Linked DNA regions of Homo sapiens: region 2 is linked to region 1. Evidence: fine-mapped expression QTL. Tissue or cell type: fibroblasts. Region 1 holds a variant in brackets; the other region holds the start of a gene. All regions are shown on one strand. Distances are between the middles of the regions.

Evidence for each region. PIP is the estimated chance that this variant, and not a neighbour inherited with it, causes the effect. A credible set is the group of variants that fine-mapping cannot tell apart.
Region 2: it holds the start of TMEM97, and the variant in region 1 is the best candidate, but not a certain one, in a credible set for the expression of TMEM97 in fibroblasts (GTEx, PIP 0.53).

The regions. Positions count from the first base shown.
Region 1 is chr17:28,088,050-28,098,931 of GRCh38, forward strand. All of the region lies in intron 1 of NLK (nemo like kinase), which reads left to right. Among named protein-coding and RNA genes, the nearest start is that of NLK, 51 kb to the left of the region's middle. The variant G/A (reference allele first, on the strand shown) is at 5,012.
Region 2 is chr17:28,313,227-28,324,108 of GRCh38, forward strand. It overlaps TMEM97 (transmembrane protein 97), which reads left to right and starts at 5,974. Exons shown (of 3, transcript NM_014573.3): 1 at 5,974-6,139. The coding sequence starts at 6,014. RefSeq lists enhancers at 4,253-5,078, 5,298-5,557, 6,038-6,097.

The DNA.
Region 1 (10,882 bases):
GTGGCTTTGTCTTAGAGTTTATCACAATCTGTATGTTACTGGTTGCATCCATGTAGTATATAGCATGTTATTCTGCTCTCTTTTCTGTTCATTGGTAGTTTAATCTGGAGACTTGATCACATTCATGTTTCTGTTTATTTGCTTGTTTGTTTTTTGATGGGTGGCTATGACTACTTCATTAGATAGTACAAGTGATCTGTACTTAATCAGGAGGCACATAATATTGGATCATCTCTGCTTTTTCATATTATAGACATTGATGATTAATACCTAGATCCATTAATTTGTTAAGGTTTGCAAAATGGTAATAATCTAATTCTACCAGGTCTTCTGTATTTGTTAGCTGAAATAGTTCTATAAAGTGAAACTTCATTTTCTATTTGATTACTTGTTGGTAGGTACGGTTTCTATAAATGATGGGATAAATGCATAATTTGTTTGCTTTATTCATTTTCAAAATAATGAATTGATCCATTAGCATCCTCTAACAGTAACCAGTTAATTAACTTATGGATTTAAGTTATATTTCATATAGAAAAATATTTCTTAGTTTCAAATAGAAAAATATTTGATATTTTTATTTCACTGAAATCATTGTCTTTATTGGTATGCAAGTTGTTATTTTGGTCACTGGGCTCCTGAGTCCTTTTGACATAACCCTAGTTGTCTAGATTTGACAACATGTTCCAGGCTCATCTGTACATTTTCTAACCCAGATCTGGAATCAGCCATTTCTCCAAGGTTCCCTTGGCACTAGAGGTACTCATCGCTTGGGTTTGTCATTGTTTCTAGGCTTTTTTTAGTGGGCATATCTTTAAGATAAAATGATACCAGGAGTTCATACTGATACTTCAAATTCAAATGATTAAAATTCTGGTCTTGAATCTCCTTTTTCCCATACAAAGTATTGGTTCCCTTGGTTTTCAGTGGTGCCAGAAATGATAGAATTAGAACTTCACATAAGTATTCATTTGTTCACCTCACAGTGCATACACAGTACTCAGAATACCAGCACCAACAATATGATTAATGAAAACAGGTTTAGATGATGTAAAGAACTTTGTTAAAATCATATGGTTTGGTAAGTTTGATGTACGTATACACATGAAACTATTGCCTCAGTCAAGATTCTGAACATATTCATCACCACAAATTCCTCTACCCCTTTGTAATATTTTCTTTCCCCACCTTTCTCTTCCCACTGCCATCTGTAGGCTTTTTGTCACTATAGATTAGTTTTCATTTCCTAGATTTTTATGTAAATAGAATCATATAAAATGAACTCTTTTTCATCTGGCTTCTTTCACGCAGCTTATTTATTTTGAGATCTATCCATGTTGTTGCATGAATTAATAGTTCATTCCTTTTTTATTGCTTAGTAGTAATCTATTGTAGAGATATACTATAGTTTTGTTGTTTTTTTTTTTCATTCACTTACTGATGAACATTTGAGTTATTTCTAGTTTAGGGCTATTAGAAACAAAACTCCTTGGACATTCATATATAAGTCTTTGCATGGACATATGCCTTCATTTCACCTGGAATGAAATGGCTGGATAATAAGCTAGGTGTATGCATAATTTTTTTAAGTTAAATTGTTTTCCCAAATGGTTTTACCACCTCACATTTCCACCAATAGTGTGTGAGTTCCAGTACCTCCGTATCACTGCTGTTACTTAGTATGGTTAGTTTTTTAAATTTTAGATATTTTAATGTGTGTGTAGTGTTACTTGTGGTTATAATTTGCATTTTGCTAATGACTAGTGATCTGCCATCCTTATGTCTTCTTTGCTGAATTATCTGTTCAAATCTTCTCTCTACTTTTAAAAAAAATTGTGTGTGTATTTTTTTTATTGAGCTTTGAGGGTTTTCTAATGCTGAATACAAATCCTTTATCAGCAACATCATTTGCAAATAAGTACTCCCAGTTTGTGGCTTGTGTTTTTGTCTTTGTAACAGTGTCTTTTGAAGAGCAGAAGTTTCTAATTTTAATGACTTCCAGTTTATCAGAATTTTAAATGAATCATGCATGTTTATCTTTCTTGTTGGCTTTTTAGTTGTAACTGTTTGCTATATTATTTTAATGATTGGCTTTAAGTATATGGTATACATCTTTAACCTATCACAGTATACCTTCAATTGGTATTATACTATTTTATGCATAGCATAGTAGTCTATATCCATTTCTCACCTTCCAGCCTTTGGGCTACTGCTGTCATACATTTCACTCTTACATATGTTTTAAGCCCCACACTACATTGTTATTTTGCTTTAAACAGTTGTCTTTTAAGGAGATTTAAATAATACCAAAAGTCTTTATATTTACCTGTGTGGTTGTTGTTTCCTGTGCTTGTTATTATTTTCCATGCTCTTCATTTCTTTGTAGATACCCAGTTTTTCATCTGTTAGTCATTTTACTTCCTTTATGACTACTTATAGTGCAAGTCTGCTGGTGATAAATTATTTTAATTTTTTTTTAATGTCTGAAAAAGTCTTTATAGCATCTCCATTTTTGAAAGGTTTTTTTAGCCACGTGGTAGCTCACACCTGTAATCCCAACACTTTGGGAGGCCGAGAGGTGGGAGGATCGCTTGAGGCCAGGAATTTGAGATCTCCTGGTGGGAGCTTGTTAAAAACATAGCGGGAGCTTGTTAAAAAATAATAATAATAATGAAAGTTATTTTTGCTGGGTATGCAATTTTAGGGTGACTTCCTTTAAGTACTTCAAAGATGTTACTCTGTTATTTTCTGGGTTGTATTGTTTTCAATGAGAAATATGCTATAATCCTTATCTTTGTTCCTCTGTGTGTAATATGTCTTTTTTTCCTCTGGCAGCTTTAAAGATTTTTCTCTTTATCAGTGGTTTTGAGCAATTTGATTGTGATGTCTAAATGTAATTTTCTTCATGTTTCTTCTTGGGATTCAGTGAGTTTCTTGGATCTGTGGGCTTATATTCATATAGTGGAATACTATATATATGAAATAAATGTACTAGATCTAGATATATTAACATGGATCAATTTTATTTCATTTTATTTATTTACTCGTCACTGACTTGAAGCACATCAACATGGATAAATTGTAAAAACAAGGCTGATTTGGGAGAAAGCAAGTTATATATAAAAGCTTAGGCCAGTGTGAGCCATTTATGTAAATTTTAAAAACATAAAACAACCATATTTTTATGGCTACAGTCATATGTATCAAAAGTTAAAGTGTGAGTATCAAGGATTCATACCAGAGCCAGAATAATGGTAAACTGGGACAGATTCAGTTAAAGATGCAGTCTTTGGATGCATCTGTAGTAGCATTATGTCTTAATAAAATGTATCTGAAGCAGATGTGGTAAACACTTTTATCTGGGCAATGAGTACACAGCGTTTAATTTCTACATTTACACACATGTCTAAAATATATAATTATATTTATATATATATATATACACACACACATATATAAAATCATTGATATGAAAAAGGTCAATACAGTTCTTATAGCTTCTGTTGCTTCACTTTATTAGATATAAAATAACCCCCTTCCACATAGTTAACATTTCAGTAATCTACCAAATAAAAGTTATTCCCAGAGATGTAAGACCTGTTTCTTTAGAATGTCATGACCAGAATTTCCATAGTAATCTCTAAAACGACACTCCAGTGAGACAGTCTGATCTGTGGGTCATTTCCTTTCCTGTTAAGAGACCTTTGTTAATTCCATTTTGCAGTATCCCAGAAGAAACATTGCAGGTGTGCAACCAATCCAACTGAAACAGATAATACTGGGTAATGTTCCCTTCTTACTCTTCCTTTTTATTAATGCACTTATTACCCATCTTCCAAAATAAAAAGTCTTTGTCATACTGGCATCTGATTTTTTTTTCTTTTGACAACCAGCCTGTCTTCTGTCTCCTGAATTTTATTTTAACATCTTTTAATATGTTGCCAGGTAGGCACCCCTAGTTGAACAAGAAAGACCTGGAAATCATTAGAGCTAACAATATACAGGTTTTTCTTAAATGTGCTGCCAAAGGGCATAACCTCTTTGGATTGGTGACATGTAGCACTTGCACAGCAGCTTTTCTTCCCATTTCTAATGGTAAGAAGTAAAATAGCCTTCTGTCAGGACCAACTTTTCTTTGGACACATGCTTCTAATCTTAATGCATTAAGACTGGTGTGTTGCTCAGAGCTTTTTTTAAAGAAACCAAAGAAAAGGCGGGGGGGTGGGGGGAGAAGGAAAGGTAAGGAAAGCCTACTCAGCATTTTCATTTGTCTTCCAAAAAGAATTTACATTGAAATGTAACAGCAGTTTCAGAAAACTTGTGGATGTACACATTTCTTTACAGCAAATGGAAACAAATTTAGAACATTTACTTAATAGGTGGGAGCTCTTCCATTTTGGTGATACTTATTTTTCTCTTTGGAGGAAGCCATAGTTTGTGAGGGAATTTTTTTGTTCCCATTAACTATATAAATATTTTAGAATGGTCTTTTAGGATTTATCTTTCCTGTCTTAAAGCTGTTCCACCCTCAGGCTCAGTCAACTGTGTAACTGTTTGTTTTCTAACCAGAGTTAAGTTAGTAAAGCCCTCCCCTTCAACAGTCACCTATAGCGTAACAAGTTCGGGGAGATAATAGTCAAACAAAACAGACTGTATCCTGCCTCGAAGTAGAAAGAGCTAAGCAACTAAGTGGCTTGTTTTTATTTTATTTTATTTTATTTTATTTTATTTTATTTTATTTTATTTTATTTTATTTTATTTATTTATTGAGACAGAGTCTCACTTGCCCAGGCTGGAGTGCAGTGGCGCAATCTTGGCTCACTGCAACATCCGCCTCCCGGGTTCAAACAATGCTCCAGTCTCAGCCTCCCGAGTAGCTGGGACTACAGGCATGTGCCACCAAGCCCAGCTAATTTTTGTATTTTAGTAGAGACGGGGTTTCACCACATTAACCAGGATGGTCTCGATCTCCTGACCTCCTGATCCACCCACCTTGGCCCCCCAAAGTGCT[G/A]GGATTACAGGCGTGAACCACCGCACCCGGCCTAGTGGCTTGTTTTTTTGTTATATTTTTAAAGTTTTCCTAAACCAGTTTTCTGAGACTAAGAGTAACTTCATTAGTTGGGAGGGGAGTTGCAGGGAGGAGGGGATATGCATTAACAAAACAAAGGGCTTTCCTTTCTTTGAAATATTCTCATGACCAGATGCTGGAAAAATATACAATAGATTTCTTAAATATAATTCTAGCTCTGAAGTATATACATACTTAATGAAACCAAAATTGAATGCTCCTAAAGTAGGCTGATCTATATATAATAGCATTTCCAAAAGTAGACCTTTTGTGGGCGATCTCCATTAACTCTCCCTCGGTATCTTAACTACATATTCCCCTTACTCCATAGGCATTCCAAGAGGAGTAATTTATAATAAAAAAAATTCTGTGAAATGTGATGGTCATCAAAGGGTTCCTTGGAAGGTATGGTGGGAAAGCTTTGTAATTGCTGCTTCACAGAACTTGAGTTGAGGGAGAGCAGTCTGGTATAGTGAAAAGAACATACACTGTAGAGTCCAAAAGACTTTAATCCAATCCCAGTTCTGCCCCTTATTCTTAGGACGGAAGCAATCTGACATCAACTCTCAAACTACTTGGGAGTTGTACGTAACACGTGGCAAGTTCGTTAACTTCTCTGTGCATTAGTTTCCCTGTTTGAAAAATGAAGATAACAATTCTTCCCATGAAAATTGCACACCAAAGACTCACCATATATTTCATTTGTTCACCTCATTTATTTGTGTTTTACTGGACTAATGGTTTCTGCTATTGTTAATAATTAATGAACATTGTGTCAGGACTTATTCTGTTGTCAGACTGCCTTAGGATATGATCTGCATTATAACATTAGAATTTCAATCCAACATCTCTAGAAAGAGTATGACAAAAGATTGCAAAAAAATGACTATTATTTAATAGGGTAGCAGAAAGAAGCTGTAACATTTTTACTAGAATATGATTAATTCACAGATGCTGACAAAAGCCATTATATTCTCATCAGATGATACTTAATAACTTGTGGACAAATAAGATGACTTGTTTTTATTCATGAGAGATTATATTAAGCTCTCTAGAAAAGCTGTAATTCTTCAGAACGTCCTAGAATTTACTGTATAGGGAATGGTTAGATTCTTCAGGTTTCTGAGCAAAAACAACCCCCAAAACAAAACCAAATTACCCACGTAGTTTGAGAGATGATGTCAGATTGCTTTTGTCTTAAGAACCTACAAGCAAGAACACATTTCAATAAGGCTGCCTTTCTCTTTTACACCTTTGAAATTACTGCCATGGATATATTTACTAGTAGTGCATTATTAACCCAGCTATGGCCACTTGCCTTTTGCTGACCGAGTTCAAAGCTTATGTACCAGAGAGGAAGGTAGTATTGGGAGGGGAGTTCTTGACAAAGGAGCTACTGATTTGCATTTATGGTAATACGTAATGTAAAGTCAGTCATCAAAAGATTAAGTATCTGAAAAGGATTATTTCAAACATTGCCATCCCTAGGGGTTTGCTGTTGAGGCAAATTACATTATTTATAGTCTTTGAGGTGGGTGGGTGGTGGGGAGGAGAGACAAAAGCTAATATTTTTATACAGGTGAAAATAAGCATCTGGTAAAGGGAGGTATAAGAGTTGGAATTCTTGGATTACAAAAGTTCAACTTATATTAGCTAAAAAGTGGGTATGTTGCCTCACATAACCAGGCTTCAAGATGGATAGAGTAGAACTAGCCTTTGATAGTGCAAGACTTGAATATTGTCAAGACTCTTGTCTCCTTTCTCTGACTTTCTCTGCAAATTTGTGTTTATTTTTTAAATTGTTTTCTCCACAGGGCAGAGGTAGTTCTCAGTCCACATATTTGCAGCTCTTCTTTAACCAAAGAGGAAAGGGACCTGACCTAGCTCCAGTTTTCATGATATCTAAGTCTTTTTTGGTGGTGGAGAATGTAGTCTCCTTACCAGAATAAAATTAGAAGGAAAAATTGGGAAGATACAAATAATTGCCACCTCAAGTGGAAGTCATTACTGTGAGTGCTAGAAAAGGATTGTCCTCATGGGGAAAGAGACCATGAGTTATACATGGTGCTAGCAAATGTTACATGATACTATTGTTGCTGCCTTTCTGTGCTAGTCCTCCTGCTTTATCCCCATATTTCCCCTCTGTAGTGCAGTACCCCCTCAAGCTGGGAGGGTAGTCAACTTGGACAGCGGCCTGGACCCTAGGGAAGAGTTTGCTGAAAAGTCTACATGGCCATGTTATCAGATTCGTTCCATTCCTAATTCAGATTAACAGCTTCTACATGTGATGGAATTGTATTACTTTCTAAAAAAAATTTCAGACTGTAACTCAACATAGTTGTGGAAGAAATTCAGAGCTTGTGGGAAAAGATGCATCTCTCTATCCAAGTCTCACTTCTAGAGGCAAGGATTCTACTACTCAGGATTGTAGTATGATTGTACACTTTAATCTTCAAGGACTTTATTATAAAGCAAGGTGCCAATATTATTACTGATGCAGATTATCCTATGATTCCAGATTTCTGCAATTACAATATATATATTTGAAATGATTATTCCATTAAGCAACCCACTTGCCCCTTGCTGTGACCCTTGCTATGGTGTAACTTTTAATGTTTCTGGTTTTACAAAAGAAAATCTGCATCAATCCTTAAAGTTACATTTAAAATTTACATTAACAGTACAACCAGATGGCATTCTGACACTCACTGTAAGTATTCTAGGATTTTTCTAAAATAGCTGGCTCAAATAGAAAAGTCATCTTTTTCCCAAGTGTGTTCCTGTCCTTTTCTCTTGTTGTGTGTTCTAACTGTTGCACTTATATTAAAATCATAAAACCAGAATGGAGAATTTATTCCAAAAGTTCCCATGCATTTCTCCAATCTTACTTCCTGTTGCAAGGACCCACCATCACAAATGAAGTGTAATTGTACATTCATGATGACGTCTTGCTTATTAAATGGTGACATTCAAGAAATTGTCAGCACAGGCATTCTTTTATAGGTCAAGGATATACTTATTTTGAAAACGTTGAAAAATAATAGTAATTATTTAACTGATTTCAGAAGAATCTATTTCAGTGGCATCCTGGACTTTCTACTGACTCACTAAAAATAGGGATTTTTGAAGAGGATGACAAAATTCATAAGTCCTTGATTCTACTATGTAAAATTATAATTTTACACAAGAAAAAGTACAATGTGGTTTACTTTTAGCCTAGTTTACCATAGTTAAGCCAAGAAAATGTAAGCTAACCAAAAGCTTGCAGAATTGTCGTTATTGTGACTCAGTGGTATAGACTTGAGTTTTCAAAAATGAAGTGTTCTTGTAATTTTTTTTATCCTCCTACAATATAGTCTCAGATATCTAGTCCTAAGGGGCTATAATTGAAGGAATATTGAAGGAGGAGAAAATGTCTGTCAACAATTTGCATTTGGTTGGAGAAGATTATGGGAACTTTAATATTGGAATCCTGACACCTGGGCATCAAAAGGGAAACTTTCAATGGGTCATTGCTGTAAATTAATCAAAGCCCTTGTGCATATTGAAGACACTTCTCTAGTTTCCCACTCCCCCATCTATTTCCAAACAGCAGAGAGAACAGGAAAAAGAATTTTTCAACATCTTAATTTTCTTCAATAAATAAGTCCCTAATAAAAATCTACTGTTACAAATCACTGGTGTCAGAGAAACAGTTTAAGAAGAAATCCCTTACTACTGGCAGATAGAGAATTGCTTCCTTTCTGCTCGAAAATAAGAGGTGTATTCTTCTTCCAGTAGTTGCCTTGTAGCATGCATAAGTGGGACACTGAAGGGTCTAAACAGTGATAGGATGGAGCCTTTCCCTTGTTTTCATGCTTTGTGTTATCCAGCTGTGTCATTTATGTTACAGTACAACATCCCATCACCACCACCTCTAGCCAGACTTAATGAGAGTAAGTTTTATTCTTTTTCCATCTAATGAAACTTTGCTTGAGCCATTTGCTTATATTTCAGTTTTGTTTGGGATATAACTTAAAAATGAGACACCAAGGTACAAGATGCATATTATAAGTTATTTTTATTGTATAACCTCTGAAGGCAACATTAAAAAATGTTCAAATAACAAAATACTTACTTTTTGATTATAGAAATTTTTAAATTATACTAATGTTATTAAGAATTGGCCATGCTTCTAACTGTAATTGTTACTTTTATTAAGAAGGTTTAATAAATGAGTTTCATTTCTTGTGTGGATATCTGTATTTAACTTGGTTTCTTTGACTTGGCATTATACAAGTAAAATTCAAATTTCCTTTTTCTGCAGTCAAACTTACATATATTTATTCTCTTCTTTGAATTACATAATGCTGAGTTGCAGGAAAAATTGGTTAGGCATGGTCCTTGTGAACCCAAGTTGTATTTCAGTTTTATAAATAAATTATCCTTACTCAGTTTGAATATCTGAACCTAGTTGGATTGGGAAACGTTATTTTAAAGCAGGCACAATAAATTATTTACCCTAAATAATTTAAAGTATATTGCTTTTTTTCTGTTTGAAATTACCTATAGTTGTTATAGTAGTATAAGGCATCTTACCTACTGTTGATATGATTATAATGACAGATACTTGTACATTTTCAGTGTCTTCAATTAAGATGATTGACTCTAAGTTTTAGCAACTAGGAAACCATTGAGGATATATCACTTTTCAGTTGTGATTCCTGCCTTTGTTAGTCTCCTTGACAAATTGAATTTCCATTTTACGTTACAGTGTGGGTTTAAATTCACCAAGCTTTAATAAGGATCCTGTTCCTTTTCATTTTTTTCTTTAAGTGAATGTTTACAGGGTAACCTAGTTGACAAAAGTTTGTTTCTTGGCACTTTGCATTTGCCACTTCTGTAATTTTTTAAGGTGTCGACTGGTTATTAATAGATTAATCTTCCTTAGAACTACAAATAACCAGATCCAGCACTGTGCCCTTTTCTTTTTATAGATAAGGGAACTGAGACCCAGATAATATAAACCTACGAAGTGTACACTAGAACCTTCTGTTACTTCTTTATCTACCACAGGGCAAACTGTAAGTAAACAATTAAAATAACTGATTCAATTTGTGAATCAGCTCTCTTGAAATGATATAGTTGCTCATGTTAGATCTTTTGTGATAACAATGATTGAAGTCCAAAGGTAATTGTTTAAAAAATTGTCATAAGAATTAGGCAGAACGGGTAGCCTCATATACCCAAGGTGGAGTAAAAGAGAGTAGAAATTATGAATTATTTTTCTTCTAATAATAGAAATCTGTTATGATAGTTATTACTCACTTATTTGTACTATAACTCTTCCAAGTAGAAAGTAAACATTTTTGTCAAAGGTACCAGCATAAAATTCAGGAAAGGGGAAGAAAACTGACATTGAGTACGTCTTTATTCATCAATAAGGGTGCATGTATATTATTGGCCACATCATTTTAATTGGATGGATATTTCATTATTTAACCAATCACCTATTGTTGGGCATACAAGTTTTTTCCCAGTTATTTTTCACAACTATGAAAAGTTTTTCATTACCATTCTTTTTTTTTTTTTTTTTTTTTTTTGAGATGGATTTTTGCTCTTGTTGCCCAGGCTGGAGTGCAATGGCGCCATCTCGGCTCACCACACCCTCCGCCTCCCGGGTTCAAGTGATTTTCCTGCCTTAGCCTCCTGAGTAGCTGCGATTACAGACATGCGCCACGACGCTCGGCTAATTTTTTATTTTTAGTAGAGACGGGGTTTCTGCATGTTGGTCAGGCTGGTCTTGAACTCCCGACCTCAGGTGATTCACCTACC
Region 2 (10,882 bases), 230 kb after region 1:
GTGTCATTGTGATGAGACTACATTTATTTTAGCAGTAGGAGGAAAAAGTTTTGTGCTTCACTACCAGGGATTACTATGATTGTTGTGATACTGTGATTGTTTACTTTTGTGGGAGTTGATGGTGTTTATGTTTTTGCATTAACGTTAAAGAAATCAATTAGCCTTTTTAATAGGGTAACTTTAATTCAGCTTAAATCTGCAAATTTGTGGGATTTTAGACCAAGAAATGGCCTGAAAGAGTGTCTAGTTCAAGTTCATTTTACAAATGAAGGTACAAAGAATGAGGAATATGACATGATTTGCATGAGGTCATACAGTGAATTATTAATGAAGACAGGACTTAGAATTGCTGATAACCATTTTAAAGAACTGAAAGATGTATTGATAATTTTTCTTGTATAATAAATAATTTTGATGATGTGTTTATTTCTTATTCTTTTTGACTTGGTGTTGTGGCTCCTAATTTTTAAAAGGGTAAGTTTTAAAACAGTGAAAAATATAAACAGTTTTTATACTTTTCAAGGAATCTACGATCTAGTGGGAAATATGTCCAGAGACATGGGCTCCAATCAGTGTTGCTCAGTGGAAAGGGACAAACTTTCGGAAACAGGTTCAGAGGATGTAACAGTGCCACCAAATAGAGGCAATTGGGGGCGGGGGTAGGGTGGCCTTCAGCCAAATAGTAAAATACATAGAGATGGGGGAGGTAAGCAGGGGTGGGGTGAGAAGGGTGGGTGCATTTTAAGTAGACAGAAAAGTGAAGCAAAAGTTGAGAGGTGAAGAAAGAGCTTTGTACAGTTGCTGCCAAAGAGGCAAGTGGCCAATTTGGCATGGCCTGCTCCAAGTACCTTTCAGCTGGGGTTACAATGCTAGAATTCGCTTTCTGCCATCATTGGGTCCACTGTTAGGCTAATGGTGTTTGTCTTGTCACAATATAAATACTTTTTTAAAGGCACTAAACATTGTTCTCATAAGGACAGGGTCATTCTTTCCACACTGTTGTCTTCCTCAGTTGACCTCTCTTAGAGCCATTTGCATTCTAAGACTTATCTGACCTCATCAAATTAAGAGCTATGGTCCCCTACTAAAGAAATTTCAAACAGCTGGACAGAATGTTTTTGGACAGAGGAACCATCCACTGAAAGTGCTTGGCCTTGAAAATCTTTATAGGTAACAAATTTGGCTAGGTGACATTTGGGGTTTTTTGTTTTGAGGCAGGGTCTCACTCTGTTACCCAGGCAGGAGTGTAGTAGTGTGATCACTCCTGGGTTCAAACCATCCTCCCACCTCAGCCTCTTGAGTAGCTGGGACTATAGGTGCGTACCACCACATCGGCTAATTTTTGTTATAGAAATGGGGGTCTCACTATGTTGCCAGGGCTGGATGAGATGTTTTCTGAGAAACTGTCACATTGACACCTGTACTTACCACATTTCCTGGACAAATCCTAGCCCACACTCCTCCGGCCCCATTGCCCTCCAGCAAGCAGTTATAATTAAGTTCTACAGGGAACTTAATTATAACTTCCTAAGGGAAGGGGAAGCTGGGTGGAGCGCAGAGCACACACCTAACCCACCCCAAGGTAAATTAAAAGGATATGGTACCACCATATCCTTAAAGCCATAATGGATGGAGGGTGGGAGCAGTGCTGCCAGGCCTCTCCAGCTGTGTAGTGTGCCAACCTAGCCAGACCTCTCCTGGGCCCTGGGTTTGGTCTGAAGACCCTGTGCGGGAAGGCACTGCTCTGCCCTAGGGATAGAAGACTTGGCCTGGGGCTGGGCGTTAGGATACCAGGGTTCCAGTCCCTGCCTTGTCACTCACTTTGTGACCTCGGACAAACACCTCTCTGAGTCTCAGTTTCCTCATGAGGTGTTAGGCCCTAGATATCTACAAAGGCCCTCCCAGCTCTTCATGTTCCATTTTTTTTTTTTTTTTTTTGAGACGGAGTCTCACTCTGTCACTCAGGCTAGAGTGCAGTGGTGCGATCCTGGCTCATTGCAACCTCCACCTCCCAGGTTCAAGTGATTCTCCTGCCTCAGCTTCCCATGTAGCTAGGACTACAGGTGCACGCCACTATGCCTGGCTAATTTTTGTATTTTTAGTAGAGATGGATTTTCACCATGTTGGCCAGGCCAGTCTTGAACTCCTGACCTCAGGTGATCCACCCACCTCAGCCTCCTAAAGTGCTGGGATTACAGTCCTGAGTCACCATGCCCAGCCTTTTTTTTTTTTCTGAGACAGAGTTTTGTTCTGTCGCCCAGGCTGGAGTGCAATGGTGCTATCATGACTCTGCAACCTCTGCCTCCTAGGTTCAAGTGATTCTCCTGCCTCAGTCTCCTGAGTAGCGGGGACTGTAGGTGTGCACCACCATGCCTGGCTAACTTTTGTACTTTTAGTAGAGTTTGGGTTTCACCATGTTGGTGAGGCTGGTCTGGAACTCCTGACCTCAGGTAATCCACCTGCCTTGGCCTCTGCTGGGATTACACGTGTGAACCATTGCGCCCAGCCTTCATGTTCTCATTCAAGTGAATGGTTTGGAGAAGTGAGAGAGGAGCTGTATACAAAAGTCCCCCTTATCCGTGGGGGAACATGTTCCAAGACCCCCAGTGGAGGCCTGAAACCATAGGTAGTACTGAACCATATTGTTTTTTCCTATACATACAAACCTATGATAAAGTTTAATTTATAAATCAAGCACAGTAAGACATTAACAATAAAATAGAACAAGTATAACAATATACTGTAATAAATAGTATGTGAATGTGCTCTCTCTCAAAATATCTTACTGTTCTCTAGATCTTAGCAACCTCAGCATTATTTCCTAAATCAAAAATCTTCACCTTTTCACATAAAGGAACTTTATGGTTTCTCATTGGCATATCCGAATTGTCACATCGCTACCATTGCACTTTAGGGCCTTTGAGAGGGGTCTCACTGTTGTGGAGGCTGGAGTGCAGTGAGGTGATCACAGCTCACTGCTGCCTCAAACTCCTGGGCTCAAGAGATCCTCCCACCTCAGCCTCCTAAGTAGCTGGGACTACAGGCAAGCCACCATGCCCAGCTAATTTTTTTTTAAGAGATGGGGTCTTGCTATGTTGCCCAGGCTGGTCTTAAACTCCTGGCCTCAAGGGGTCCTCCTGCCTCGGCCTCCCAAAGTGATTACAGGTATGAGCCACCACACCTGGCCCACTATTAAATAACATAAGGCTTACTTGAACACAAGCACCGTGATAACTCAATGGTCAATTTGATAACCAAGATGGCTACTAAGTGACTAACAGGAGTAGTTAGTCTGGGAACAGAGTGGAGTCTGAGAAAGAGCAAACTGCCTTTAAAGATTTATGGTGTGAACAAAATGGGCTCTCTCCTCAGGTGACCTAAGGTTTCCCAGGCATTGACTTTTTTTTTTTTTCCTGGAAAAAAAGCAGCAGCTAATTCTGAGTCCTCCCTCCTGAGCCCCTGGTAGAGTGTTCTCTCCATGGAGCCCGGCTCCCCCCTCGGAGCAGGACAAACAGCCCTGAACACCCCTGCCTCCCTGTGGCTGCCGGCTCTGTGGTCCTGGGCAAGGCTGACCTGAGACTTGGGGGACGCCAGAACTGTGTGCCCTCACGATGCTCAGCCACCCATGCTGTTCATCCCCTGCTCCCCACCCAAAGACCTCCACATTTCTCCTACTGTCTCCTTCCAACCTGCTCCTCCTCCTCTCCAGCCAAACCCCTCCACTGTTACCTCCCCCAGTAACTGGCACTTGGCTGAGGACTCAGCTTCCCCACAGCCCTCTCCAGCGCAGGCTATTCACCTTCTCGCACCCTTCAAGGTCAGGATAAGCGGCCTCCTCCCTCCGCAAGGCCATGTCCACACAGTTTCCCCTCCACTCTCATCCCATGCTCACCTTCCTTCTGGTTACTCCCCCGTGTGCAGTGGCATTTTCGCCACCACCACCCTGGGTGGCCTTCCCTTGACCTCATCTCCAAAGACCTTCCCCTCCACTCCATTTCAGCCGCACACTCCCACGGGCAGAACCTCTTCCTGACCCCAGGAATTCAGGTATTGCACGCCCTCCTCATAAGCTCCCACCCTTCCGGCCCAGTGACTCCCATCACGCTGGCACGTGTTCCTCAGCAGGCCTCCACTGTCTCCCTGTCTTACAGCCCCCTTTGGCCTCACCTCTCCCTCTCCCCCTACCTAGCTTGAACTGCAACCTTCTGCACCTCAATCACTCTTCTTCAGCTCTTCAAAGCCACCTTTCGCTTTTCTGAACCCAAACTCTGTAGGGGTCCAACAGCCTTCTTCTGGGTAGACCCCGCACTAGAGAAATGCAAAGCACACAGCCTAAGAGATTGGGGCCTCCGGGTCAGCGGCCCCCCACCTCAGCTGGGCCTTCAACACTGCCATAATCCCTCTGTCCTAGCCCACAGCGCCCCAAGGGAAGGGGAAGCTGGGCGGAGCGCAGTGCACCCACCTAACCCACCCCAATCCTTCCATTCCCTCCGCCTCCTCCAGGGCTTTGAGCCGCATTTCCTGCTCTTCTCGAGTAGGGGTAACCTCTCCCACTGTCAAAACTAAACTAGCTCAAGTCTTTCTCACCTGCAAAATAAACTCTCGAGTGCATCTCTCTCCAGCTACTGCCCCATGTCTTCTCCCCTTCGTGACCAGCTGTCTACACTTCCTGCCTCCATTTCCCCACTTTCTTACTCCCTGGCTCCTGCCCCCACGACACAACTGTTCCCCACAGGGCCACAGGCGGGCATCACTCAGTGTTGACAGGCTGCCCCTCCCTGTGACATAGCCCCCTGCTAGTACGCTCCTATCTCAGTCCCCTCCTCCCATGACCTGAGGCTGGAGCTCCCCCAGGATCTCTCCCAGGCCCTCTGCTCGCCATCAAAGGCGGATGCCTCACAAGCTTACGACTCCAGACAGGCTCACCCAACTGCCTCCTCCACCCAACGCTGCAGCCCACTCAAGGTCCACGTAGTCCAAGCTGCATTCCTTCCTCGCACTCCCTTGCCCTGTGTCCCCTCTTAGCAAATGGCAGCCTCGGCGATCCTGCCCCGAGACAGGCCTGCGCCCAGCGTGGAGATGAACATCAGTATTTGCTGAACGTGTAAACGAATCCTTGACCTTCCCTCATGCTCCACAGCCGGTGAGGATTCCTGTCCATTTTACTGCCTCCTACGTCCCTCGAGTCCTCCCCTCTGCTTCTTTGTTCACCGCGGCCAGCTGCCTCCCCAGACCCGCAACCCCGGCTGGGCCGGGAACCTGCACCGCGGCGCTCGTGCCCCGCTCTGCGACCCCTGCTCCGTGACGGCCGCACTGCACCGGGGTACCGCGGCCCAGCACAGGCGCTGGTCACTAGTACACGAACTAGCTAGGACTACAGGTGCACACCACCACACCTGGCTAATTTTTTATTTTTTGTAGAGATAATGTCTTACTAAGTTACCCAGGCTGGTCTTCTGGGCTCAAGCCATCCTCCTGCCTCGGGCTCCCAAAGTGCAGACATTACAGGCATGACCCACCGTGCACAGCGTCAGCTTTATTTTTTTAATGCTGACTTACTGCAGAAGGCCCAAGGGCCAGTGCAGTTTTCATACTGCTGTTGTAGTGGCGAACGGAGCCACGAGGGAAGGGAGCGCCGCCGGCAGCTGCCGGGACACCAGGATACCACGCGGCCAGCACCGAAACGCTAGGCTCGCGCTCACAACCGCAATCTACACTGAGTAGCCGCGCGCCGAACGGCGTGACTAAGCCCCGCCCACACGGCGCTCCTGGCGGCCAATGGAAATGGCTTACGAGACGCCTTCTCCACGCGCTATACTTATACGGACCAATGGGTGCGCCCTGTGGGGAGTGCCGCCCCCTGTCCACGAGCCTCCTCTTCTCGCCAGCCAATGGAAGCGGTCTGCCTAGCCCTCGCGGGGGCAAGGCGGCGACCGAGGCGCGTGGGTCTGGGAAGGCGCGCGGATTTGGCCCCTCTTCTCACATCAGCGGGTCCAGGCCCAACCGACAGACTATGGGGGCTCCGGCAACCAGGCGCTGCGTGGAGTGGCTGCTGGGCCTCTACTTCCTCAGCCACATCCCCATCACCCTGTTCATGGACCTGCAGGCGGTGCTGCCGCGCGAGCTCTACCCAGTCGAGGTGAGGGGCGCCCCTCTTATCCCGGCCCGCTGAGGCTCTCCCGGCGCTGCGTCCACAGGGCCTTCACCTCCTCCGCGCTCGCGCACTCTGGGTTCCAGTTGCCTCTCTCGGGTCCTGCCCATGCCTCCCCCGCTCCTAACCCAACTTTAGTTCGGTGTTTTCCTCGGGCTTTGTCTCTATCCCAGCCCCTTCTCCCAAGCGGCGGGGGCGAACGCTTTGTTTCCTTTAAAGTCACTTCTTCCCTGGGTTTAAGGTTTCCCGCGATTCCACCTCTGGCCGGTTGTCAGTGTCTGAGGGAAGTAGTCTGGATGAAGTGGTGTCCAAAGTCACATGTTAGGTTTGCTTTAAGCTTCTGGTTTTTTGTTTGTTTGTTTGGAAGGGCTTTAAAATACCAGTCTGATCCCAAAGAAAAAATCCGAGTAGAAATAGACCTGTCTGAAGGTTTAGCACCTTGGTTGGTGCAGCTGGGGCGTTCACAGATCGTCACTGCTTCGAGATCAGGTTCCAGCAACTTCCAGAGCTCAGGAGTAAATTGCCATCTTTTCAGATTGGCTCTTCAATATTGGGTTCGAGTAACAATGATCTCCTGAGTAAAAATAAAGGTGAAAATCCCGATTTCCTGGTTGTTGGAGAGCATTCTTTCAACCCCAAACTCTGCTTTAATGCTTTGTTTTTTTCTTCAAAGCTATAGTTTTAGTTTCCCGGTTCGTTGAGGTTTTTTTCTCGTATCTGGACCCTGTGACCTTCTTCCATGGAATTCCTGTCCTCAGTTTTGTTTCTCCATCTTATCTATAACTGTAGGCAGGACTGACTTGTCTACCCGAAGATTTTATTTTGCGTCTGTTTTTCCTTAAATGCTTTTTATCTGCCGAGGAGGGGTTCTTTACCTGAGGGTCATGAACTCCCAAAAATGGGTGCAAGTGTGTGTGCCTTTTGTTTCCTGCAAGGAGAATATAGCTTCCATCGACTTTTCAAGGGGCCTAACTCTCCCAAAAAGGCCACGGCTCAAGAATGTTCTACCACTCCCATAAGTCACTCTTTTTTGTTTGCTTCTAGAACCAAACACAACTGGAAGACCTCTGACCTCCTTTTGCATGGGAAAAGCGTAGGTAGCGTGTAGCAAGTTGCAGTCTGGGGACTTGGTTCTTCCAAGAACTGGAGGTGACTTGGGCAGGTCAGGGCTCTATATCCTCCTCAACTGTTGAGAGAGTTGAGTTAAATTATAAGCTCAAACATATACAGGGTGGGTTAGTTTTCATATTGCTGTTGTAGTTACCACAAATGTAGTGATTTAACAGATTTATTTGTTTACAGTTCTGGAGGCCAGAAGTTCACAATGAAATCTTACAGTGCTCAAATCAAGGCAGGGCTCACTCCTTCTGAGGGCTCCAGGGGAGAATCTGGTTCTTGCCTCTTCCATTTTCTGGTGGCTGCCAATGTTCCTTGGCTTGTGTTCACGTCACTTCAATCTCTGCTTCGGGTCATCACATTGCCTCCCTTTCTGTAGTCAGAGTTCCCTCTGCTTCGCTTTTATAAAGACACTTGTCATACATTCAGGGCCCACCAGATAACCCAGAAAATCTCCCATTTCAAAATCCTTAATTACATCTGCAAAGTCCCTTTTGCCAAATAAAGTAATAGTCACAGGTTCCAGGGATTAGGATGTGGTTATCTTTGGGGGCCATTATTCAGCCTACTACAGGGCCAGAGAGTACAGACTCTTCCCAAAGACCGAAGAGGTCATCGCAGCTCTGCAGTAACCATTAATTGCCCTGAAGAAAGGAAAATCTACTACAGTGTTGGCCTATCTGTGGTTTTTGAAACCTGTGTGGCCAGCAATACTCAGACAGGCTGCCTGTTTACAATCTCTGGTGTTATAGGACCTTTTAATACTTGGTAATTAGCCTGCTACTCCATGTAGCCATTCCAGACTTCACAGCTGTTGTCTTCTTTATCCTTCCTGGATGTGCCATTCTCACAAGCCCGTCTTGCTCACCCCTAACAAAATACACTTAAAAGGTGCTCAGCATCATATCATAAAGATCCCATTTAAATGTTTACATTTGATAAAATTTTCTCAGTCTTTTTTTTAGAAACAGGGTCCTTTGTCACCCAGGCTTGGCGTGCTGTGATGCAGTCATGGCTTACCACAGCCTTGAACCTGAGCACAAGAGATCCTCCCACCTGTCTCCTGAGTAGCTAGGACTATAGGTGCACACCACCACACCTGGCTAATTTTTTATTTTTTGTAGAGATGATGTCTTACTGTGTTACCCAGGCTGGTCTTCTGGGCTCAAGCCATCCTCCTGCCTCGGGCTCCCAAAGTGCTGAGATTACAGGTGTGACCCACCGTGCCCAGCGTCAGCTTTATTTTTTTAATGCTGACTTACTGCAGAAGGCCCAAGGGCCAGTGCAGGCAGCATCTGGCCAGAACCTGTGTGTGTGTGTGTGTGTGTGTGTGTGTGTGTGTGTGTGTGTTTGTGTGAGATTTAGGCATTAGCACGGGCATCCTGGGTGTGTGTGTATCTGTGTGTGTGATGATGTTTGAAGGCATTAGCTCGGTGGCATCCTGGCATGGAAGGTCTGTGCCTCCATTCTTGTTGCTTTGGTGTAGGAAATGCTGATTTTGTTGCTTCTCTATGGGGCAAATAATAATAAACGCCTTGAGTTATTCTCATATTCTCTTTGAAAAATGCCAAAATTTAACATCTGTCATTTTCTTCCTGAAATAGAAGGAATGTTTCCCTAGAGTTAAAAAACCTGTAGGAGATCACCTAGTGGTTGGGCTGAAACATGCACAATAAATTTTTTTTCTTGGATTGCACCAAATCACTGCTTGGAAAAACTCATTTTTTTATTTACTTTTTGTTTTTCTTTCTTTTTTTTTTTTGATTTTGTTTTTGAGACAGTCTCTTGTCGCCCAGGCTGTAGTGCAGTGGTGCAATCTCGGCTCACTGCAACCTCTGCCTCTCGGGTTCAAGCAATTCTCCTGCCTCAGCATCCCAAATAGCTGGGATTACAGGTGCTTGCCACAACGCCTGGCTAATTTTTATATTTTGTTATAGATGGTGTTTCACCATGTTGGCCAGGCTGGTCTCAAACTCCTGACCTCAAGCGATCTGCATGCCTCAGCCTCCCAAAGTGCTGGGATTACAGGTGTGAACCACCACGCCTGGCCTGGAAAAACTCTTATTTTATTATGAAACAGTAAGAATTTAGTTTGGATAAGAACATGGTAAGGAGAGGATGGGAAGCATTTTGTAGTATCATTTGCAGCTGGGTAACATTGCTTCTGGTAAAAATAAGGAAAAACAAGTGAGCATCTGGCTCTGAAATCAGTCTGTGTTCCCATTCTAAATTATAGAAGTACAAGATTGGTGAGTAGCAACCACTGGTTTAGAGATCGTGCGTGCAGGCCAGGTGAATCTTTTATGTATAACAAGGGTGGGTTGAGTCAAATAGAGTCAGGTATAAGTGGAAACAGTTTCATTACCTTTGGTAGGGAGGCCATAACTAATAATTTTTAATGACCAGTCGTGAGCTGCGATTTTAATGGGATTAAACTTGAATATCTCCAAATATGTATTAATTACATTCAATTAATCATTATGTGCTAGCCATTATTTTAAAGACTACATGTATTAAGTCACTCTCTTACCAATAGTGAAGTAGGCACTATTACTGGCTCTATTTTATTGATGGGGACACAAGTGTAGGGAGATTAAAGGCCTTGCCTAAAGCCAGGCACTCTACCCCAGGTCCTACACGCCTCACCCATCTGCCAGGTGCCTGGGCTTTCTACTCTCCTACTCACAATTAGTCCCAGCCTCATTCTGGCATCAGGTGGCAGGTATATGACTGTGGGCAGATGGTTGGTTACGATTATGATAATTCATTATTACGACATCTGGGTGATTGTTTTTTAAATTTTGCTGATCTCATCTTGTAGGCCTTAGAAATTAAAGTGCTGTACAAGTCTGCCTCAGTTTATGAAATAGTTGGATCAGAGAGGTTGTAAACAAATTGAATAGAAAGTGAAGTTCAAATGGCCAGAATGCCTTTTTTTTTTTTTAATTTTTTTTTGAGATGGAGTCTCGCTCTGTCACCCAGGCCGGAGTGCAGTGGCTCGATCTCGGCTCACTGCAACCTCAGCCTCCAGAGTTGCTAGGATTACAGGCGTGAGCCACCACACCCAGCTAATTTTTGTATTTTTAGTAGAGACGAGGTTTCACCATGTTGGCCAGGCTGGTCTCAAACTCCTGACCTCAGGTGATCCACCCGCCTTGACCTCCCAAAGTGCTGGGATTATAGGCATGAGCCACCGGGCCTGGCCCAGAATGCCTCTTAAATTTTGCAGTCAGGCCGGGTGCAGTGGCTCACACCTGTAATCCCAGCACTTTGGGAGGCTGAAGCGAGGATCGCTTGTGCCCAGGAGTTCGAAACCAGCCTGGGCAATGTGGCAAAACCCCGTCTCTACAGAAAATTAGCTGGGCTTGGTGGCGCATACCTGTAGTCCCAGCTACTGGGGAAGCTGAGGTGACAGAATCATCTGAGCCCGGGATGTTGAGGCTGCAGTGGGCCGAGATCAAATCACCACACTCCACCAGCCTGGGCAACAGAGACTGTCTCAAAAAAAATAATAATAATTTTATAGTCAATCTTTTAAAGCAGGTAGTGTCATCCAGTATTTTTAAAAATCTAAAAAGCAAAAAAGGGATCTTAAGAAAACATCTAGTCCAAGTT